Regions from separate parts of the Homo sapiens genome. Here region 2 is linked to region 1. Evidence: fine-mapped expression QTL. A gene starts in region 1. The other region holds a variant in brackets. All regions are shown on one strand. Distances are from middle to middle.

What was found. PIP is the estimated chance that this variant, and not a neighbour inherited with it, causes the effect.
Region 2: its variant is fine-mapped to the expression of ARID3A in fibroblasts (GTEx, PIP above 0.99).

Annotation. Positions count from the first base shown.
Region 1 is chr19:923,919-929,281 of GRCh38, reverse strand. ARID3A (AT-rich interaction domain 3A) reads right to left here and starts at 3,247. Exons shown (of 9, transcript NM_005224.3): 1 at 3,223-3,247; 2 at 1-20. RefSeq lists silencers at 2,278-2,470, 2,458-2,697, 3,118-3,187, 3,278-4,207, 4,298-4,387 and an enhancer at 2,313-3,073.
Region 2 is chr19:972,395-977,757 of GRCh38, reverse strand. It overlaps ARID3A (AT-rich interaction domain 3A), which reads right to left. Exons shown (of 9, transcript NM_005224.3): 9 at 1,819-5,363. Among named protein-coding and RNA genes, the nearest start is that of WDR18, 9.3 kb to the left of the region's middle. The variant G/A (reference allele first, on the strand shown) is at 3,058.

The DNA.
Region 1 (5,363 bases):
ATTCACGCATTTGCAGAAACCTGAGGGGGAAAAAAGGCACAGTCAGAGCAGGCCTGAGCTCCTCAAGCCCCCTCCTTCCTTCCCCATGAAGGCCCTGGGGATCAGCTCTCATGTCCATCTCATGCAGGATGCAGACCTGGAGGCCTTCTTGGAGGCAGAGGCGCAGGCTCTTCGCATACAGCCTACTGTGGGCCTGGGTAGCAAGGTCGCCCCGCACGGGGCCACAGAGAAACACGCTGTGGCCAGACTGTCTGCCCCAGGAGATCTTGGATTATTGCTTCACAAGCAGGGTGGGGGAATGGGCGTTCCTGGCCTGTGATTGGCCAGCGGGCTCCGGGCCCCAGTCAGGTGGGTTCTAAGTTCCAGTCGCTGCCTGAGTCCCTGTTGGAGCGGCCCAGCCTGGCCTCCAGGTATCTAGGTATCCTCCCATCTCAGGCCAGACTGGAGATTGAGCGCCTGTTGTATACGGGCCCTGGGCTAACCCTCCCCCCATCACACAACTCAACAGCAACGCCCAAGCCACAACTTCTCTGGACCTCAGGTTCCCTACCTGCAAAACAGTGTGGGTAACAGTACCCCCCCAACCCATGGCACTCAAGGAGGGATGAATCGAGTTCAGGAGGTTAAGGTGGGCACCAACAGGTGTCAGAGAAGGGGGCACCAGGGCGGTCCCATTTCATGGTTGAGGACAACTGAGGCTCAGGGATCCTCTGCTTGGAGACATGGCGGTGGGATTTGAACCCAGGTCTGGGTGACCACAGAGCCTCCCACGCAGACCCCACAATCTCTGCAGGGCAACAGGGGTCTGGAGTTTCCCGGTCCTCTGGGATCCCGAGTGGGCCAGATGTCTCGGACGGCAACACACTCACCCAGCCTAGAGTGCCTTCCACCCAGGGCCAGTCCTAATGGCCTGGGTGAAGAACAGAGACTCCTGGGGCCTGGGTCCCACCCGAGCCACCCCCTAGCCCAGGCCACACCTCCACCCGCCCAGGCCGCCAATAAAACAGGCCGGGCAGAACCCAACAGGCCTGGAGTGACACCCCAGAGGGAAGGCACATCATGGGGACAGCGGAGGGGGCAAAGCTCCACCCTCCCGAGAGGCAGCTGGGCCCAGGAGGCCACCCCCAACCCTTACCCTGGCAAAGGAGCCCCCAAGACTCATACACAGCTCCTGGGCAGACAAGGCCTGGAGAGACGAGGAGGCAGGGACCCCTGGGACTCAGATCCCTCCTGTGACCCGACCCCACCCAGGTCAGTGTTGCACAGCAGACACCCCCAAGCCTCCCCAGTCACCGGACAAGAGAGTCCTGTGGCCCCTCTGCCCTAGACACCCTTTACCCAGACCCCTGAGTCTTTCGGCCCCATGGGTGAAAAGGCAGTGGGGGGCAGGTGGGTGGCCCCTGGGAGAAAGCGAGGAGGGCATGTTCCAAAATAGCCTCTGTTCCATCTGTTGTGGGGACAGAGGTCCCAGGTCACAAAGACCTCAGGGCCATAGCGCTGGGTTGTGACCAGGAGAGCCTGGCGGTCCGGAGGCCACCAGGGCGGCACCCAGCCCCCCATCCCCAGGCTGGAGGTCACCCCCCACCCACCCAACCCAAGAAAGTGCTGAGGGGGCATTTCTGACTCAGGGTCTGGTCGGGTCTGTCGCCCCTCCCCCACCTGGGACAACTTCAAGACAAGGCCCCCCCCACGGAAGAGCTCCAAGCAAAGCCCCCCCTCTTTGGGGGCACAGAAGGAAGAGGCCAAAGGAAGCCACTCCCCCCACCAGCCCGCTCCGAGCCCTGCTGGGTTTAATGACCCTTCCGGGTCGCCGGGTGGGGGAGGGGAGCAGGACAGACCTCCACGTTGGGGCCGGTGGAGGGGGCAGGTGGGGATCCCAGATTCCCCCCTAGGTCAGGGCTGGGTGCCCCCCCATCGCCGCCATAACCCTAAACTAGCTACGCCCACCCCCTTCAGACCCCTCCCCCCAAGAGCCCTTTGTCCTCGACCCCCACCCCCATTTTATGACAGCCCCAAGGGAGAGGCTGGGACGGGGCGCTGGGTGGTCGTTGGACCAGGCAGGGGTGGGGGGCGGAGGGATCCTGGGCCACACCCTCCTCCCCCCAGGCCTCCGGAGAGAGGTCACCCGCTCGGCGCGGGCCTTGCAAAACATGGTTATTTAAAGAGTTGTGCAAGGCCCCGGGCCCGCGGGTGGCGAAAGGGGCCCCTCACTCCACGAAGGGAAGAGGAGGGGGAGGGGCGGGGCAGAAAGCTGGGGAGGGGGCTAAGAAAGTCCTGGGTTGGGGGGGCCTGGAGGAAGTGAGAAAAAAACTCAAGAAGGAGAAGAAATAAGAAGACAGAAACCCTGGTCCGGATTTCAAAGGCTTCTTGGAAAGCGGCCGATTTGCATGGGGGGGGGAACCCCTCCAGCCCGAGCGCCTAAAAACGGAAGATAATTGAACCCGCCGCCCGGGGCCGGCGCCGAGCGTTGGAGTTGACAAACGCGCGCTCCCAGCGCTTCCTGCGCCCGCTTTTGTGTCTGGGGGGCCCTGAAACGGGTCAGGGGGCTCTTCCTGGGTATCCCCGCCGAGGAACCGGGCGCCCGGGCCCAACCCACCCCGGCGCCCGGGGGCCGCGGTGTCTCCCCCGGGGGCCCCTCTCTGCGCTGGGGCGGACACTTTATAAATAAACCAGCCCGGCTGGGGAGGCTCGCCGGGAACTACCCTCCCTCCTCTCTGGGCTCCCGAATAAATCCCTGATTTCGGGGAGAAAGAATAAAAATGAAATAAAATATCGGGGTGCAGCCCCCCGCGCGCGCGCAGAGACCATTTCCTTCCGCTGGGGAGGGGGGGGCGCGCACTCGCGACCCCCGATCGCCCCTGCTCGCCCCTGAGCGATTGATCCAGTGGGGAGTGAAGTCTCCAAGCGGGGTGCAGAGAAAACTCCCCGAACCCCAGCCCGCCAGGGCCGCCTTCCCAGTCCGGGACCCCCACCAACATCTCCGCCCAACTTTGGGGACCCCCTTCTTTGGCTTCCAGGACGCACTGCGCCCACCCCGGCACCGGAACCCGCGCTGGGAACGGCCAGCGCGCTCCCCAGCCTTACCGCGCAGGGCGGCTCGTAGTGGGGCGCGCGCCCCGCGCCTGGGGTCGGCCTGCCCGGGCCCGCCTGGCTTCCAGCCGCCGGTGCGCGCCGCTGGCTCCCGGCCCCCGACCCACGGGGCTGTGCCGCGCGCCGACTCACCGAGCCGCCAGCCGCGTCCGCGTCTACACCCCTCCGCCCGATTGGTAAGAGGCGCCCCGCGCGCGGCCGGCCCCCGCCCCGCCCCTCCCCCACCCCCAGACAAATCACCAGGGGACGAGTCGCTCTCGGATGCAAATACCTGGCCGGTGATTCAGCGCCGCGGCCCGGGCGCGGGAGGGCCTCGCCAGGGCTCCCCACTTTTCCCCGCACGCCCCCTCGCCCCCCTCCCGCGGTCTGACGACGCGCAACCAGCCCGGGGGCGCTGGGGAGCCGGGCAGAGTGGACGGAAATTTTCAGGTCGCGGCCCCTTTAAAGGATAATAAATAATAAACGGGAAGGGGAACAGCGCCGCGGGAGGCCCCGCCCCCGGCCTAGGGACGGTGGGCAAAGTGCGCGACGCGGCCCCAAGCGCAGAGGGTGCCGGGGGCAGGGGCTGGGGCGGGAGCGCCCCGGGGGAAGAAGAGGGGACTGACTGGGGCTCCGCCTGGGCGGGCTGGCCGGAGGCATCGGAGCCAGATCCGGGACCAAGTCTCTTCCCTTCTTACGGAGCACCTACGCTGGGCCTCGTGGACTCGGAGTTTCACCTTCGCCCCTTAGACGGAGAGACCCTGAGAGAGTGACTTCACTCTCCGGAGCCGCCGTTTCCAAGTCTGAGAAATGGGCTTGAAAGACCCGGTGCAGAGCTGGGCGGGCGGCGTCGGAGGGAGGGAACCAGGGTCCCGCCGGCCTCCCTCTGGGGAGGGACGGGCTGCAGACGGGGGCTCGGCGCGGGCGTGGGGAGGTGCGCGCTGGGACCCGGAGCCCCTTTGTGAAACCAGGACGACCCTGCCCGGCCCGGCTGTCACCAGCGTCGGGAGCTCGGCTGCCCACCACCCCCCCGTGAAGGTGGTGATGACTTACACGGTCTGAGCGGTCGCTTGCCCAACCACGTGCCCCGCGCCTCCCTCCAGGGAGGTCCCTGCACGTCTCCAGCCCTCACTCCTCTCTGTAGTTGGCAACCTTCTTGTCGCCACTGCGCAGAGCAGGAAACTGAGGCACCGAGCGGGGTGCAAGGAAGGCGGTCGGGAGGGGGACGCGTGCTCTGCAGGGAGCTGTGTGCGCGGGAAGCGACCCCAGGGGGCTAAGCGCAGAGGCCCAGGCTCCAGCCCGGACGTGAGCCCCAGGGGAGCCTGGAGGGCGGGCAGGGGCCACCCCGGGGGACCCTCACTTGTGGAGGGTCTCTGGCGGGCTCGGGTCCCCGGTCCTGAGTGTTGGGGGCGGGGTTGTAGTCGTCTCCCTCCCCTTTCCCTAGACTAGCACACGGCATTGCAACTTTCTCTCTGTCCTTCCACCTAGTTGCACCTCCTCCCTCCACAAAACTGCAACCGGGGCCGGCGCGGTGGCTCACGCCTGTCATCTTAACACCTTGGGAGGCGGAGGTGGGCGGATCATCAGAGGTCAGGAGTTCGAGACCAGCCTGGCCAACAAGGTGAAACCCCATCTGTACTAAAAATACAGAAATCAGCCGGGCATGGTGGCGCGCGCCTGTAGTCCCAGCTACTTGGGAGGCTGAGGTAGGAGAATCGCTTGAATCCGGGAGGTGGAAGTCGCAGTGAGCCGAGATCGCGCCACTGCACTCCAGCCTGGGTGACACAGTGAGACTCCACCTCAAAAACAAAACAAAACAAAAAACTGCCGGCAGGAGAGCTGCCCCCGACAACAAGGCCTGAATCCAGCCTTCCAGCCCCAGGGCCACGTGTAACCTAATGGCGGCAGGTGTCTGAGAGGCCTCCACCATAAGGCTATATTAAACACCAAACCCAGCTGCCACCCCTATCTCCGATGGAGAGGCCTGAGACACCTGCCCCAGGTTGGGGGTGCTTTGGAGAGACGCTCCCTGCAGCGGGATAAAGGGGTGTGGGAGTACCCCCTTCTCGGGCCAGGACCCAGCTCAGGTCTGAAGGTGCAGGAAGTCCCTCCCACCTACGATGGAGCACCTGGAGGCCAGCAGACCCGAAAGGCACCTGGAGGGCAGGTGCATGGGCCTGTCTGTGCCTCAGTTTATCCCTCTATAAAATGGGCCAATGTTAATTCAACCCTTTCACCATCCTGTTCTGGATTAGGCTGCCCTTTGTTCAAAGGGAAGGGCACAGGGTGGGGGC
Region 2 (5,363 bases), 48 kb before region 1:
CAGCTGAGTCCCTTTACTATGTTCTGGGTTTGGGGGCTGCAAACTGGCTGTCCAGGGGCCAAATCTGGCCCTTGGTCTTGTTTCCTAGGACCCGAATGGTGTTGTAAGGGAAAAGGTGAAAATGTGGCCAGCACTGGAAAAGTTCCCTCCCCCAGCCACCAGGACGCCCCTGAACCCCAGAGGCCTCAGCTCCAGGCGGCTTCACCAGTGGGCTGGTTCCTGGGCTCGCCTAGGAGGTGAAGGAGGGCAAACTTATGGGGGGCTCGGGAACAGGGTGTCCCGCTCGGCACAAGGGCCTCCATCTGGGCCGCACAGAGGGCGGAGGAGCGGGGAGCCCCGTGCCTCCCACCCGAGGGGCCGCACCCTCCTGTCATGGGCAGGCGGGGACTGTGTGTCGGCTGCAGAGGATGGAAAGGAGTCTGTCAGAGCAAAGGGGGAGAGGGCTGTTCCCGGCGGTGGAACAGCTGTGTGAAGGCCCTGAGGCCGGACCGGGCCACTTGCCCTGGGAGCTCCGGTCGGATAACGCCAGGGGCGCCCGCATGCAGAGCCCTGTTGAGGCAGGAGGCGAGGGGTCAGGCTCGTGGGCAGGTGGCTGGGGGTGCGCACACTGGCCCTGCCACACCTGTCATCCCAAATCCCTAAAACGGGATTGGTGTCGGGCTCTCAGCGAGGCACAGAGGTGCCCAGAGCGGCCTCCAGGAGCTCCCCTCGGCCCTGTGGACCTTGCGGTTGGATCCTTCTCTGGGGTGGGGACGTCCTGGGCACTCAGGGTGCCGAGCAGCGTCCCTGGACTTCACCCACTCCATGTCAGGAGCTCCCCCCAGATGGGACAACCACAGATGTCCCCAGACATGGACCAGGGTCCCCTGGGGGCGGAATCACCCTGGTTAAGGCCCTCTGGGTTAGGGGATTCCATGGACCCCCTACAGACTCTGCATCCCATGATCCTCGGCCCTGCTGGGGTCCCAGGAGGCTGCACACACTGAAATCCATGCCCTGAGTAGGGAGGGAGAGAGGAGGCGAGTCCCAGGAGCTGGGTTCCCCCGGGTTTACACCGTCTGCCCTGTCAGGAGCTTATCCTGGTGTCTGCTGTGGGCAGGGAGAACTGTTTTTACCCCACCTTAAATAATGAAGGCAGAATTTCCCAACTCCTGCAGTGTGGATGCTGGGCGCCAGATTGTTCTCTGCGGTGGGGCCGTCCTGGGCACTCAGGGTGCCGAGCAGCATCCCAGGACTCCACCCACTCCACACCAGGAGCGCCCCCCCAGGCGTGACAACCACAAATGCCCCCAGACATGGACCAGGGTCCCCCTGGGGGCACAGACCCTGGCTGAGGACCCCTGCTTTTTTTTTTTTTTTTTTTTTTGATGGAGTTTCCCTCTTGTCGCCGAGGCTGGAGTGCAGTGGCGCAATCTCGGCTCACTGCAACCTCCGCCTCCTGGGTTCAAGTAATTCTCCTGCCTCAGCCTCCGGAGTAGCTGGGATTACAGGCACGCGCCACCACGCCCGGATAATTTTGTATTTTTAGTAGAGATGGGGTTTCACCATGTTGGTCAGGCTGGTCTCAAACTCCCGAACTCAGGTGATTCCGCCCTCCTAGACCTCCCAAAGTGCTGGGATAACAGGCGTGAGCCACCGCACCTGGCCAGACCCCCGCTTTTGTAGCTGTCTCTGCCGCCCGGAACCAGACCTAGAGCGATGCAGGGCAGAGGGGGATAGAGCACCCCCTTCCACTCACCCCTGGCTGTGCTGGGCAGGGGTGTAGGGTGGAGCTGGAGGTTGGGGAGACGCCAAAAGAAAAAAAACACCACAGGACACTTTTCTGTTAAAAGTCAGAAGTGTTTTGTCTCGTTTTAATATCTCATCAGCTTTACAGGGTTACAATCGTCTTAAATATTTCTGAAGTTTAAATACAATCTGCATAATAATGTTACTATAAAATGTAAACTTTCAGTGTTCTTTTAAATTTCAAAATCACACTTTTTTTTTTTTTTGGTCTTTTTGTCTTTTTTTTTTTTTTTCCTTTTAATACCTGAATGTTCTGCGAAAACTGAAATTGTTACAGGCCACCCTGCCGCGGCCAGGGCGAGACAGGCTGGGCCCAGCCAGAGGTAGAGAGTAGTTTTATGTTTTTTAAAAATTTTTTTAAGTTTTTTTTTTTTTCCTCCTATTACCTGAGTTTCAGGCGTGGTTCCCACGCCGTCTGACAAACTCCAGAGAAACTGAAATTTCACACGTCATGAATGAAAGGCTGAGTTTACATTTGCCAAGGAAAAAAATGCAAAAGCACAATTGGGGAAAAAAGGGACAAGGTGGGTAAAACATGATAAGAGAAAGGAAATTCAACTGTACAGATGCGTGACCCTTAACAACGACCCCAGCTGCCCCCCGTGCCCCGTGCCCACCCTCCCGCCTTTCTGGACAGCCACTTACGGGTCCCACGGAAGGTTCCAGAAGCCGCCTTTCTCCCAACATCTCAGAGCAGGGGGAGCCCCCGTTGGCCTTGACTGTGGGGCACCCACTCAGTACGCAGCCAGGCCCCACGGTCCCAAGTGAACTAGAACCCATCCAGGGTCCTCGTGGCTGAGGGGACTGCCCGACCCCCTCCCAGTCTGCATAAGGGGGGGTGCTGAGCTGCACCCCAGAAAGCCACACCGAATTTAAACCCCCACCGACAGGCGGTGGCAGGAGATGGGCACGGCTGGGGTTGAACGGGGCCACCTGAGGCAGGGAGGAGCCTCTGCAGACACGGCTTCCTGCCGAGTATCCAGGACCGGGCCCCATAGACCCTCTGCAACCGCCTCCCATTTCCACGGCCAGCATGGCCACTGCCTTCAGCGACTTCCTTCTCCTGGGCCGGGACCCAGCCTCGCGCCCACCCCCCACCCACCCCGCCTGTCCCTACAATCATCGGAGTTAACAGCAGGCTCAAGTCCTCTGAGTTAGAATCCAGGTCCACCCACCGCCGGGAGGCCGGATCGCCCACAGACACGACACGCAGGATTCCCGACACACACACGCAGCCCGAGGGAGACGACCCAGCCCTCGACCCTGCAC[G/A]GCCCCTCCCCAGGCTCCGAGGTGGGCAGGTGCACGGGGGCCCCAGGGGTCCAGGGCCGCCAGATGCAGCAGGCAGCCAGGCCCCAGTGGCTGCTGCAGACCCTGGTGCACGGGAGGCGGGGGAGAGGCACCCCAGGGGCTCAGATTTTGGCATCAAAAGTCAGACCTGAGGTAGACAGAGATAGGCAGCAGGCGCTTCCCCCGGCGCGGGGCCCAGGCGTGGGACGGGGGTCCCGGGAGAGGAGCCCTGGAGGCCGGGGGACAGACACGGACAGAGTCCAGGTGGTTCTGCGAGTGGGGCCCGATTGTGTCTGGAGGCAAACAGACACCCCCTTCCCGGGGTGATTGTGCTGCTACGGTGCTGGCCCCAGGAAGGGACAAGGAAAACCTAGACGCCCACCACCCCCTCCTGGAAAGGGGGTGTGTGTCCACGGCCCTGAGATCCGAGAAGGAAGTGGGGGTCCCCTCCCCAAAGACACAGGAAAGTGACAGTCCCCTCCCACAGCCCGACGGGAAAGTGAACCTAGACTCAGGGGCTCAGAAGCCCCCCAGCCCCCTCCCCAGGGGTCTCCAAGGCAATGGGGAGGTGGTTGGGAGTGGGGGGAGCTGGGGAGTCCCCTTCCTCACCAAGCCCCCATGCCGGTGGCCTAACAGGGCTCCCAGGGCCCAATTAGAGACCCAGGCTTACCCTGGGAATAGCTGAGTTAATCCCCACTGCACCCCAAGAGAAATGAAAGCCCAGAGCTCCCGTGTAGGACACGACAGCCCCGCCCAACACCACGCGGGTCCAACGAAGTCCCCAGACCCTGCTGGGCATTTCAGACCCAGCCTTTCTGCTCCAGCAGCTCCAGCCAAAATAACCCCCCAGCTCAGCTGCGGTGACCCCACTTTCTCCAAGCCAGGGGGAGGGGTACTGACCCACAGGGTGGTGGGGGGCAGCCTCCCTTCTCGGCCTCGATTTAGTCACCGCAGAACTCGGGGAGCTCGCAGCCCCAGCACAAAAGGGGTTGGGAGAAGAGGAAGGGACAGAGCGAGGAGAATGTTGGGGTGTGGGGGGTGTTCAGGATGCCGGGGCCCTGAAATCCTCACCCTGAGTGAGGTCCGGCTTCACCCCCACTCCCCAGTATTGATAGTCCTCAAAAGCAGCCCTTTCGGGCAAGAGAAGAATCCCAATGAGACGCCACATTCATCCCTGAGACAGGAGCCTGGGGGCTTCGACAAGAACCACCCCCGCCCCCCAGGCCCTTTTTCCAGCACTTGCTACTTTTTAGATAAGATTTCCAGACCGGGCCAGCGTGGCGGCTCATGCCTGTAATCCCAGCACTTTGGGAGGCCAAGGCGGGCAGATCACCTGAGGTCAGGAGTTCGAGATCAGCCTGACCAACATGGCAAAACCCCCATCTCTACTAAAAATACAAAAATTAACTGGGCGTGGTGGCGGGCGCCTGTAATCCCAGCTACTCCGGAGGCTGAGGCAGGAGAATCGCTTGCACCTGGGAGGTGCAGGTTGCAGTGAGCCAAGATCGCACCATTGCACTCACTCCAGCCTGGGCGACAAGAGCAAAACTCCGTCTCAAAAAAAAAAAAAAAAAAAAATTTCCAGGCCCCTGACTCGAGAGCCCAGCAGACAAGCACGGCACAAGCAAAAGCATCGTGGAATATCACAGTCAGCAATTCACTGTCAGGGGCCCCTGGCCGGTGGGACCCCAGCATGCACCCTCTGCCCCAGCCCGGCCCATAGCACCTGAGTTCATTGGCTCCGCGGCTCTAGCCCCAGGGATCCGATGTGCTGGGCTCACAGCTGCCCAACGCACCCCCAGAAATGGACAAAGGGACCCAAATTGGTCATGGGAAAAATAAAAAGGTGAGTTTTTTTTTTTTTTTTTTTTTTTTTTTTTTGCTTTTTTTTCTTGCTTTTTCAAGACCAGTTTCCCTGAAGGAACACAAATATATAGCTATATAGATATATAGATATCCTTTTCCTAAGGTTTGATCCCCCCAAGAATAAAATAGAATATTTACACAACAAAACCCCCGAAACCTCTTAAAAACCCTACAGAGAAAAAAAAATTTCCCAAAGCAACAAGAAAAAAACAAAAATTCAGTGATCTTGGTTCAGGGGTTTCACTGGACACGAGAAGCTGGGAGTGGTGAGTGTGTGGTGAATAGAAAATAAAAGAGAACTAAAGCAGACAAAAATGAAAACACACAGTGCAGGGATGTATGAGGTAAACAGGATCGGCCCACACTGCTGTGGGGCCAAACCAGACACCAGAGCCTTCGGTCCATCAGGGCTGCCTGAACGC